2 separate regions of the Homo sapiens genome follow, and region 1 is linked to region 2. The links come from fine-mapping of genetic effects on gene expression. A gene starts in region 2. The other region holds a variant in brackets. All regions are shown on one strand. Distances are from middle to middle.

The links. PIP is the estimated chance that this variant, and not a neighbour inherited with it, causes the effect.
Region 1: its variant is the best candidate, but not a certain one, in a credible set for the expression of DCP2 in lung (TOPMed, PIP 0.75).

What each region holds. Positions count from the first base shown.
Region 1 is chr5:113,018,514-113,023,892 of GRCh38, forward strand. DCP2 (decapping mRNA 2) reads left to right here. Exons shown (of 11, transcript NM_152624.6): 11 at 1-3,682. It overlaps MCC (MCC regulator of Wnt signaling pathway), which reads right to left. Exons shown (of 19, transcript NM_001085377.2): 19 at 3,593-5,379. Among named protein-coding and RNA genes, the nearest start is that of DCP2, 44 kb to the left of the region's middle. The variant AG/A (reference allele first, on the strand shown) is at 3,192.
Region 2 is chr5:112,973,476-112,978,817 of GRCh38, forward strand. It overlaps DCP2 (decapping mRNA 2), which reads left to right and starts at 3,323. Exons shown (of 11, transcript NM_152624.6): 1 at 3,323-3,511. The coding sequence starts at 3,459. LOC105379126 (a long non-coding RNA gene) reads right to left here and starts at 1,310. Exons shown (of 2, transcript XR_948679.3): 1 at 1,223-1,310. RefSeq lists enhancers at 2,814-2,863, 2,894-2,973, 2,989-3,748, 3,284-3,333, 3,404-3,493 and 2 more.

The DNA.
Region 1 (5,379 bases), 45 kb after region 2:
CAGAAATCAGTTGGCTGTGTTTGTAATCTTGTCCCACATGGACCCTAACCTTTAGTAGACTTCAGTCTTTTAGTCCAGTAGAAGACAATGGCCCTGAATATGTGTTTTCTGCTTTTTGGTGGAAGGTTTCCTGCAGGTGGTTGGGTGGTTTTTGGGTTATTGGCTACTGTTCGTTCAGTGCCATTTGAAGACCTGTTGTTTCTTAATCCTTTTTCTTGGTGTGACTGGCCAGGAAAAAGTCCATTGAGTCCTTTTTTTCTCCCTGGTGTCTTACCCCTTCTGTAGAATAATCCATATTTTAAAATTTGTTTCACATCTTTATAGCAAACCTGCCACAGACTTGCAAGCAGTGATTTTATCTTTCCTTCCTGAGAAGGTGATCTCACTTTTGATGTTTGGGTCACCTGTGGACACCTGTGCTCTTTTGAGTCTCAAGGCTTATAGCTTTCACATTGGCTTGGGAACAACAGACTTGTGTGTGGTTCTAGAGTGAAATGGGCAGTGTTCTGCTGGTCCTCAGTCTTTGAGAGGTCTTAGGCAACATCCTTAGTATAGTGGAATTTCTGAGGTCAAATTTAACATTTAATATATTCTCCTTTTAGTTCATTGAATCTGAGGTTCTAAATCTGTAGCTTCATTTTGAGCACAAGTCTGCATTGTCATTTTTTAAGAGATTGGCAGGCATATCCTTTTGTGATACTTAGGAAAAGACTATGGATGGCAGCAAATGAAAGTAAAGGTTCTCAACTGTGAATGAAATTTAGAAAGATAATTCTTCAGCAGTTGGTTGATTAGATGGGTTAGTGCTTTTGGAATATATAACAGTAGACTTGTATTCTTTATGCACTATACATATGATACGCACTGACAGAAAAGCACAGAAGACATACTGCTAAGAGTTTCTTTGTGCATTTCACTACTGTTCTAGGGGACTGCTGTCTCTTTGGTTCCTTTTAGGTTTGTGTTAGGATGTTGCACAAGTAATCATTTAATGTTAAATGCAAGTGTCCAAAGAAATGAGTCTTAAAGTTCTTTGGTCATATTTCACTTTAGAGTTAGGACAGGAGACAGCTAACCTGACTTCCATTTTACAAATATTAGAAACTTTTTCTTCAGTAACAAAAACAGGGAAGGACAATAAAACCATGAACTATTTTGCTTTATGTCTGTTTTTAAAAAATAATTGTTTTGAAGTTTGCTTATTAGCTTAATACCTTATAGTACTTTTAAAAAATCATCCTTGGTAATTATTGACTTATCCTAGATCCATGTACAATTCAGACTTTTATCTGTTAGCTTTAATAAAAATTTAAAACCATCTCATTTCAGAATAAAATAAACGGAATTACAGTTCATGCATTAGCATTTTTAAGTGAAGTTCTCTTAATAAGATTGCCTTTTGTCTAACCGAAATAGGGCATACAGATTAGTTTGGATGGGAAAGTGGTAAGACTTGACTTTTTAATACTGTGCCTATTTCCAAAAGAAGACTTGATGTGGCTTTTTACATTATGCTTTAAAGATGTTAATGGAGGATACATAGTCTTAAAACAATTTGTTTGGGAGTAAGTTTTAGTCGGAAAAAGGTGAAGATATTTATGCTGAGTTATGTTAAGCAAATTATTTTGAGACCTTTTGCTGGTAGACAAAAACTGAGGAAATGTTTCACTAAATATATTATGGTCAATGAAAAAACCAGACTTTAGAGTAAATGTGATAACCAAGTAGATTTGTGAACTTTATTTCTTTAGTAATTATTTTTATCTTATGTGAAATGATTCAACCTTTAATTTTTGCCTAGATTATAGCAATGTTTTGTTTTACCTTATAGGGCATTTTAATGCTTGGAGAAAGACTATAAGTGAATCTACTTCAAGGGATTCTGTTCATGGTGGTATACAGTTCTTGGTGCTCTTTTGGAAATTGTCAAACATTTACTGATAGCAGAAAAGGAACCCCAAAACACCTGTAGTGTTCACCTTGTTATAAGAACAGAAACATTTGGAACAGGTTTCATTCTGTTTCTAGATTTATGTTGTTGTAGTTGAACAGCAACTGTTTTTTTCCCTCAGTGTTAACGAAAGGATAAAGACTACCTGTATTGTTGGGTATGACTATCAAAGGATTTCCGGTGATTCATGTTTGTGAATTGGAGTTTAAATGTTTGCAGGATTACTGTACTTCCAAAGACCCACTAGAATGTCAGCTGTACTCTGTACTCTCCACTGAGAAAATGAACAAAATCCTATGTCTTAACAGTTATGCTCTAACTTTTTGAAAGCTTTTTGATGTAAATAATAGGTTAGAAACTAAAAGCCTTTTAATCTTACAAAATACAATTTGAACGATGGAAGGTTGTTCAGATACTGGCTTTCTGTAAAAACATCATTGTGTTAGATTGTTTGTAATGTACTATCAATAAAATTGGCTGCTTGGGCGGTTTTAGTTACCACCTTAGCCTGGTTTTCTGCTACTGTTATTTATCATCGTAGGTTCTGAGTTGCTCATTGTGGTTGCTCTTTGGACCAATAAAAATGGCAAGTATGAGATGAACATGATAAAAGTATGTTTATATAACAGGAAGAAGCTGGGCGCGGTGCTCATACCTGTAATCCCAGCACTTTGGGAGGCTGAGTTGGGTGGATCACGAGGTCAGGAGTTCGAGACCAGCCTGACCAACATGGTGAAACTAAAAATTCAAAAATTAGCTGGGCGTGGTGGTGCGTGTCTGTAGTCCCAGCTACTTGGGAGGCTGAGGCAGGAGAATCTCTTGACCCCGGGAGGCAGAGGTCGCAGTGAGCTGAGATCACACCACTGCACTCCAGCCTGGGTGAACAGAGCAAGACTCTGTCTGGAAAAAACAAAAAACAACCAAAAAAAAAAAAAAAAAACCCCCAGGAAGAAATATTGTCGAGAGTCTCTGCAAAAATGAAAATACCTCAAACAATTAAGTTTGTTGCTTTAAAGCAAGATTATAGTGTAGGGCTTGAGATGTGAATTCATTAGATATTTAAAATCCAGCAATTCTTAAGTTTGTGCTAGAATCAGGTTTTGCAATAGGAATACTTAACTTTGGATCTCAAGGGGGAAAGAAATACATTCTTTTCCATTAGAGACCTCAGCTATATGATAGTAACTTTTATTTTAAATTCTCAAAAGGAGAGTGACTAAGGTGTTATACTTACTGTCAA[AG/A]TTACTTTGCTTCCATAGTGAAAACTTGAGAACATTGTAATCTTTCTCTAACAGATGTGTTGCAAAGCTGCTTGCCATCTTGTTGTCCTATATGACTTCCTTGCATTTCCAGTCCTTGATTACATTCCATTTTAATGATCTTTCTTTAAGAGGGGAAAAGACTCTCTTCAATAGATAACTTCCTATTTATGCCAAATTTTAAAAAGCCAACTAAAAATGGGCTATAAATGAGGGTTCTTTGGCCATTTTGATCTAATAATAGTCTTACTTCTAGACCCCTGCTTTGACTAGGGCTCTTGATTTCATGTAAGCATCATGGATTTGATATTTGCCTGCATGTATATCACAGTTCTACAGAAGGATAGCCTTACCCTTTAAATAACACAGTTAAGGTACACTGTGGAATTAGAAATATTTATTCAGAATATAAGAATGTTTGTAAAATATTATAAATGTCTCTGTATAAATAAATGGAGTTTTTAAAAAACAATTCTATATCAAATAACGCAAAGTAGCTATTTTACAGCAGCTAAAACTAAAGGCATCTGGAAACATTTAAAGAATACAAGTGGAGAATCTAAAAAATTACAAGGTATAGTACAGTGTTAAGTAGCAATTTTAAAATGAGACTTTCAGTACAAACAGTAGAACAATACTGACAAATGCAAACTTAGTCACATGTGCTTTAATAACTGACAATACATTCAAGCAGGTTTTTCTAATTCAAGTGTATAGCACATATTCAAATAATAGGAAACAAATCTCATGCAAAGTAAATAAATCTTGATGTCTAAAAACTGATTAGAACTAGAAAAGAAGTGGACATGTTTTATTATCTTTGCATTACGTTCTAACAAAAGCAGATTATCAGGGGCTCTTACTCACTTGCCATTCCTGACATGAGCACTATAAGTGAATACTATGAGTTCTACAAACAGAACATTTTTCCACATGAATTTGACTTGCAAAAAGTGCAAAAGGGAATGGTAGAACCAGAATTACTAAGTACGGCATCAGTGTGAATGTGGGGGAAATTTGTGTATAACTTGCTTTGTTCTGCTGAGCTGATATTTCACCTGATTAGCAGATGGATGACTGTGGAAAGATGAAGTACTAGTCAAGGATGTGGTTTTACATAGCAGTTGCTATTTCCGGGACTGAATGATTTCTTCCTCTTGGTCACATGCAAAATCTCACCCAGATGTAATGTGATAAACAAACAGTTTACCCAGTGTAACCTTTAAGCAAAAATGTATGGTGATCTGCATGTGAAACTGTCTTTCTCTACACAGGTATTAGCAAAACAAGAATACATGAACAGCTGCTATCAACTTGTATACTTTTTTTCCACTTGTTTATATTTTAACAGCCACTGAGAGATCAGTGATGCTGTGGTGACAGCAGTCAGCATTATTTCTTAGAGAATACAAATGTATTAAGTTAGAGTAATTTCAGGTGTGTTAAACAGGAGATGCTTCTGAAGGCCACAAGTTTGGAGCTTACTTTAACCTGACCTACATGAACATAAGATTTGTAGGATGTGGATAAACTTTAAGAACTGGATAGTGAAGGCGTAACTTTTGTTTTGTAACCAGTTACGCCTCTTCTGTAAACTCTATAAGAGTGCTCAAAGGTGAATCAAACTTGTATATCATTCCTTGTCAAATAGGCTGTTCCCACTGGATAAGAAAATTTGCTGTATGTTTTCCTGAAAAATTTTATAGTGTTCTACAAAGCCATCACCTTCTGCAGAAAAAAAATGTTACTTATGCTCCACCTCCCCAGCCCTCACTAAAAACTTTGGTAGCCCTATGGCGGTACCCTAATTAAGGTCAGTGCAGAAATCTCAACCATTACAGAAGTCTCTTACTATTTTGGCTCTCAAAATACTCTAACTAGTAGCTCTGTTTGCTGAATCTAGAAGTAGGTAGAGCTGTAAATAGTTTAATAGAATGATTGGGACATACTCCCAATTAAGAATTTGCAAATTGTTTAAAGCCTTATGGAGGAAAGGACACTTTCAGAGATGTTTATTTTTTAATAGTCATCTTGATATGTTATCACTTTAAAGCTTGATAATCGAAACTCTTGAGAGCTATTAAGGTTGACTGATAGACTTAAAAAGTGATTGCTTTATAATTCTCGTGGGCCATAGGAAACACCTTCAGAAGGGAACAAGCAACTATG
Region 2 (5,342 bases):
TGTATTCCTAGCTACTTGGGAGGGTGAGGTGGGAGACTGAGCCCAGGAGTGAGCTATGCCACTGCACTCCAGCCTGGGCAACAGAGTGGGATCTTGTTCCAAAAAAAAGACTAAATGAAATAGCATATTTTAAAACTATAAAGGTTTTAATCAACCTAATTATTTAAAAATCAAATCAGTATTATAATTTAAGAACCCTAGCATCTCCTGTTCTCCTGTTACCTCAACTCTAAGCTCCCCTTTGTCATTCTCAGCTGGGTCCTGTGAACAATTAGATGGAATTGAGGCCTTGGTGTCCCTATTCACTTTAACAGGGATGGCACTAGGTTCAAGAGGCTGAAGAAGAGACCCAGAGCCAGCAAATGAGGCATATGGTTTATTGAGAGGAACTTGCATACAGAGCGGTCCACTAGAGGTGAGCTGGACATGAGAACAACATCACCTGCAGAAAGCATGCAGTTTATATAGCATTTTCATTTTGCACCCTCTCCCTAACAGCTTCCACCTGACAACTTTCATTTAGCCCAAAACAAAGGGCCTAGCCCTCCTGTGCAGCCTGCATTCCACAGGGCTCAGATGTTCCTCATAGATAAGGAATGAATCTTGGTTGTAACTGCAAACTCATTCAGGTTGTCTGCCACACAGGGTCATTCCCCTGGGTCTGCTTACGTTACTGCTGTCAGGTGCCTCTACCATACAGTTGGCTTCTTTGGAAGTCATGGCTTGGGGGGCTGCTATAAGGGTTGCACTAGTCCAGCTCCTGGAAATCTGTGTGTGAGGAGGCAGTGGAGGGATGGGGCATGGGCAAGATAATATCTTGGACCACAGACATCTCAGAAACTCTTAATAAGGCAGATTGGTTTAACACCATGTGAGAGTTTGGGGACTTCCTGGCCTCTAAGAGCCCAAAAGGGGTTGTATAGCTGCCCCTAAACTGGGAGACTAGAAAGCTAGTAAGAAGAATTCCTCCAGGTGCTTCAGCAAGTGCTTGGTAACCTGCTTGTTTCTATTAATATACCATTGGCCCATGTGGGTGAGCACCACTTTGCCTTGAACTGTTGTTCCACTGCCATCATTTAGAATACTCTAAAAACTAGACTTGAGCTCTAAGTGAGACAACTAAGAAAACCACTATGGTGCCTCCCAGTCAGAGAAAAGACATTCAGTCAGAACAGGTAGAATGCACACCCAGCAAAATAGAACTGAAGGGGCTCACTCTTACCTTTACCAATCCATCCACTACACTGGCTGGAGGTCCAACTGCTAGTATCTGCATTTCTTTGCCGTAGGACTTTTTCTGGCCACCAGAGCCCATCTTGCTGCCCATGTAGCAGGCTAGAGTGCAGACCCCAGGAGCTGCCTTCAACCAATGAAGGAAGTTGGTATATAAATCCCCATCTCCCTCACCCCTTGAGTGGGATAACTCTGAGGTATATGTTTTATACTGGCCACCAGAGTTCTCCAGTGACAGTAAGCTCCAGTTAACCACAGTGCTAATTTCCTTGATAATAAACCTTTTGGCTTTCCTCCCCTCCTTGACTCACTTTCCTGCTCTCCTACCAATGTTTCCCAAGATCACCTCCCTCACAGGCTATCTGCACTCAAAATCTTGTCTCAGTGCCTGCTTCTTAGGAAATCTAAAATAAGACTTGGACTGTGCTGGGAGTACTGAATAAAGCAAATGGAATACTGCAGCCTGTGCTTCTGTACTGGACTCCCAGAATACATGAAGCTGTGCCTGGAAGCATTTTCTCTTTAGGGAATTTCATCAGCAGAAAGAATTACGTACAGATACTGATACCATGTGTTTCCAACCAACAGCTCAGCCAGATCATCCTACAGTGAAGCTCTCAGGAAACAAGTACCATCTACAAGGTGAGAGCTTCCAATTAGCTTTCAAGGCACTTGACTCCAGGTTAAGGCCTTACTCTTAAGTGTGAGTGAATAGTCAAGGACTACAGAGGCTTCTAATAGGATAGATGAGATCAAGATAATAGCAAAAAGCAGCTGAGAGGAATAAGACTACTCAGGGAGAAGAAAACGTCAAAATCTATTATTAATATCCTCAGAAGGATAAAATAAAATATACAAAGCAAGAATGTGACACCACAAGAAAGGGGCATTTGAAGAACAAAACAGAACTCTAAATAAGTAAAAACTCTGTAGTTGTCAGGAAGATAAATTTGAGGAATTCTCCAAGAAAGAGGGGAAAAAAAAGATGGAAAACGGGAGCAAAATAGATGGTGACGGGCCTCTTATGCCAAAGGAACTTGGGCTTGATCATACAGCAGAAACTGAAAAGATAACTTGTTCCTATCTGAGTAAAACAAAACAAAATGTAGGCAGTTGCACAGGCCAAGAATGGAGGCAGAGTCAGTGGTTAGGCAGCTCTCACTGTAGTATGGAGAAATGATGCAAAACTGAAGTACACAGTGGCATGTGACAAATTTAGACAAAAGATGGGAGATTAAATGGTAGAACAGACTAAACTTGTGACGGAGCAGGTGTGTGTGGGCCTGTGGGTCTGATGTAAGAGGAAAAAGAACAGATGGATCTAGTTTCTCCAAAGATCCCAAATGGATTGGTCTCCATTAAGCAAGACGAGGAATGAATAAGGACGAGCAGGTGGGGATTGCTTTGTGCAGAGGGTGGAATACAGATCAGAGTTCAGCTTAAATCAGTATTTTCTAAGATTTTGCTAGGTGCCAGATACTGAGATAAAGTCCTTGTCTTCATGTTTGGAACCAGGTGCCTAAGGAAGCACAGAGGAGAGCCACCTCCAAAATGGATACCCTCTCCAAGGGTTTGTAGTGAAAGAGGCACAGCTCTTGGCCTGGAGTTGGTGGGGGCTGCGATAAGTGCAAGATACTTGGTGACAGGAATCGCGAGCATACTCTTGTGTTGTACGGATTCTCAGGGTCGGCCCTGCAGAGGAAAGAGCTCAGTCACCGCGAGGTCCTGCACAACATGCCAAAGTCCCGGATATGTGTCCGGGGTCTACACCTAAGCCCCGACCCCTCTGAACTTCCCAGAAGCGCGCAGGAGGCATGGTGCGCATGCGTGTAGCCACCTCAAAGGCGGCGGGAAGTTGGTTTTCTGAGTAGCAACTGAGCAGCTTGAAGACGGATTGGAAGTAGCAGACCAATAAACAAACGTCTCATTGGCTTAGAGTGCTTAGAGTCCCAATTCTTCAGCTTCCCATTGGGCCTTTCAAGCGAGCAGGGGCGTGACTCCGGGGGCTCCGCCCCGAGCCTTGGCCCAGTCTTGGGGTCCAAGGCTGAGGGAGCGGGACGGAAGTGAGCGGGTCCCGCCCCTTCCCCTTCTCGTCTCCGTTGGAGTCGTCTCTGCCGCGGCTTCCTCGGCTGCCAGCTCTCCGGCGAGCCGGAGTCCTAGTGCCGTACCGTCAGTCCCCGGCCGCGCGGAGCCGGGATGCACTGTTCCTGCTGTGGGTCCTCATCATGGAGACCAAACGGGTGGAGATTCCCGGCAGCGTCCTGGACGATCTCTGCAGGTACCGCGCTACCCGACCCCCTTTCGCCCCCGTCGGGTTTTCTCAGTTTCGCGGACCCCCAGAGGCCTCTGGGTCTTCTTCCCCGCCCACGTCCATGTCCTCGCTTTCCGCTCCCGCCGCTGCTCGCTTTCCATCGTCGACCCTGCTCTCCGACGACACCGCCCCTCTTTCCGCCGCAGCCTCCCTGTTTCTCAAGGCCCTCCGTCCTTCCCCGCAGAACACCCGGAATTTCCTCATTTTTTAAGTTACTCAACTATTTTGCTTTCCCGCAGGCGTAGCCGCTTCGCCGGAGCCTGGGTCTTAGCGTTTTGCCGCCGCCGCCGCCTCCCTCTCCCATTGTTTTTTCTGCCTCTGTGACTTTTCCACGCCGTGCACCCCCTCCTCCCTGTGTCTCATTCCCCGATTCTGAAGGAAGACCCCCAGGGTAGTAATTTAAGGCTTAGGATCCCAGGTACGCGGACCTGCGCAAGGAGCAAATTTTCGGACTTATTCTGACGCCTGCGTGTTATTTGTCCGTGGCGTTCTCTGTAAATTCCTGTAAGGAATTACTTTTTTTTTCTCATCCCTGGACTTGTCTTTGGGGGAGAGAGGGAAAAAGTGTAGCGCTGCTTTTCTTTTTATCCTTAATAATCCTATTTTAAAGGAAATTCTCAACCGCGGGGTTTTAACTCAGGGTGTATACTTCAGATGAGAAATTTTCTGCATTCTTCCCCCTTGTCAACTCTGATTTCAGATAGCCAAACACGTGTAGGATACTTAAAAATGCTTATTTTCCGAAGGTAAAATTTGGAGTGCAGTGATACCCGGAGTTGTCGCCAAGTGTGTGTGGATTGTGATTACAAGTGATAACACCTTTTCGTTCACAGTTACTGTGTTTATGTTTTAAAAGGCAGGCTTTTAGTAGTTGTATCTCCTTCATGCAGTTTTTTTTAATGGAAAGTAAAGAACTGGTGTTTGTGGAGTTTTTTGGGGTTTTTTTTGTTTGTTTGTTTTTTTGTTTTTATTTTTTGAGACGGAGCCTCTTTCTTTTGCCCAGGCTGGTGTGCAGTGGTGCGGTCTTGGCTCACTGCAACCTCTGCCTTCCGGATTCAAACGAGTCTCTGCCTCAGCCTCCCTAGCAGCTGGGATTACAGGCACCCGCCACCACACCCGGCTAATTTTTGTATTTTTAGTAGAGACGGGATTTCACCATCTTGGCCGTGCTGGTCTCGAACTTCTGACCTCGTGATCCACCCGCCTCGGCCTCCCAAAGTGCTGGGATTACAGGCGTGAGCCATCGCGCCCGGCCTGGAGTTTCTACTGTGCACCAGGCACTACCTTTACATGTATTGTTTTATTTAATCCTCAGTCAGCCGTGTTTGGTAGGTGCAGTTAGTATATTTCCATTTTCATCTGCGCAAACAGATTCAGGAACTTTGTAATTTACATAAGGTCACATTCATCCTAATTCACAAAATCAAGATTTCACACCTATTCCTTTTTCTTTCCAGTGCCTGTGCTTTTTCTCTCATACCAAGGAGAAGTAATAAGCCTAACGTTTTAAACCTCACAAAAGTACATACAGAAAAGTAAATAGCCTAATTTTGCAACTAATACAAATGGCGCTGTACTTCTTTGGTGATGGTAGATTTATAATTTTTGAAGTATGGTAGATTCAAATGAACCACTGAAAAGGCATTTAGTTTCTTGTCCCAAATAAAAAAAAAAAAAGGAAAAAGAAACTGAATTTGATATGTGTATGTGGGTTAATGACTAGACGCACATCAACCAATAGTGGGATTATGAGATTGTGATCTTTATTTTTTGTTTCCAATATTTTTTATGCATTTTA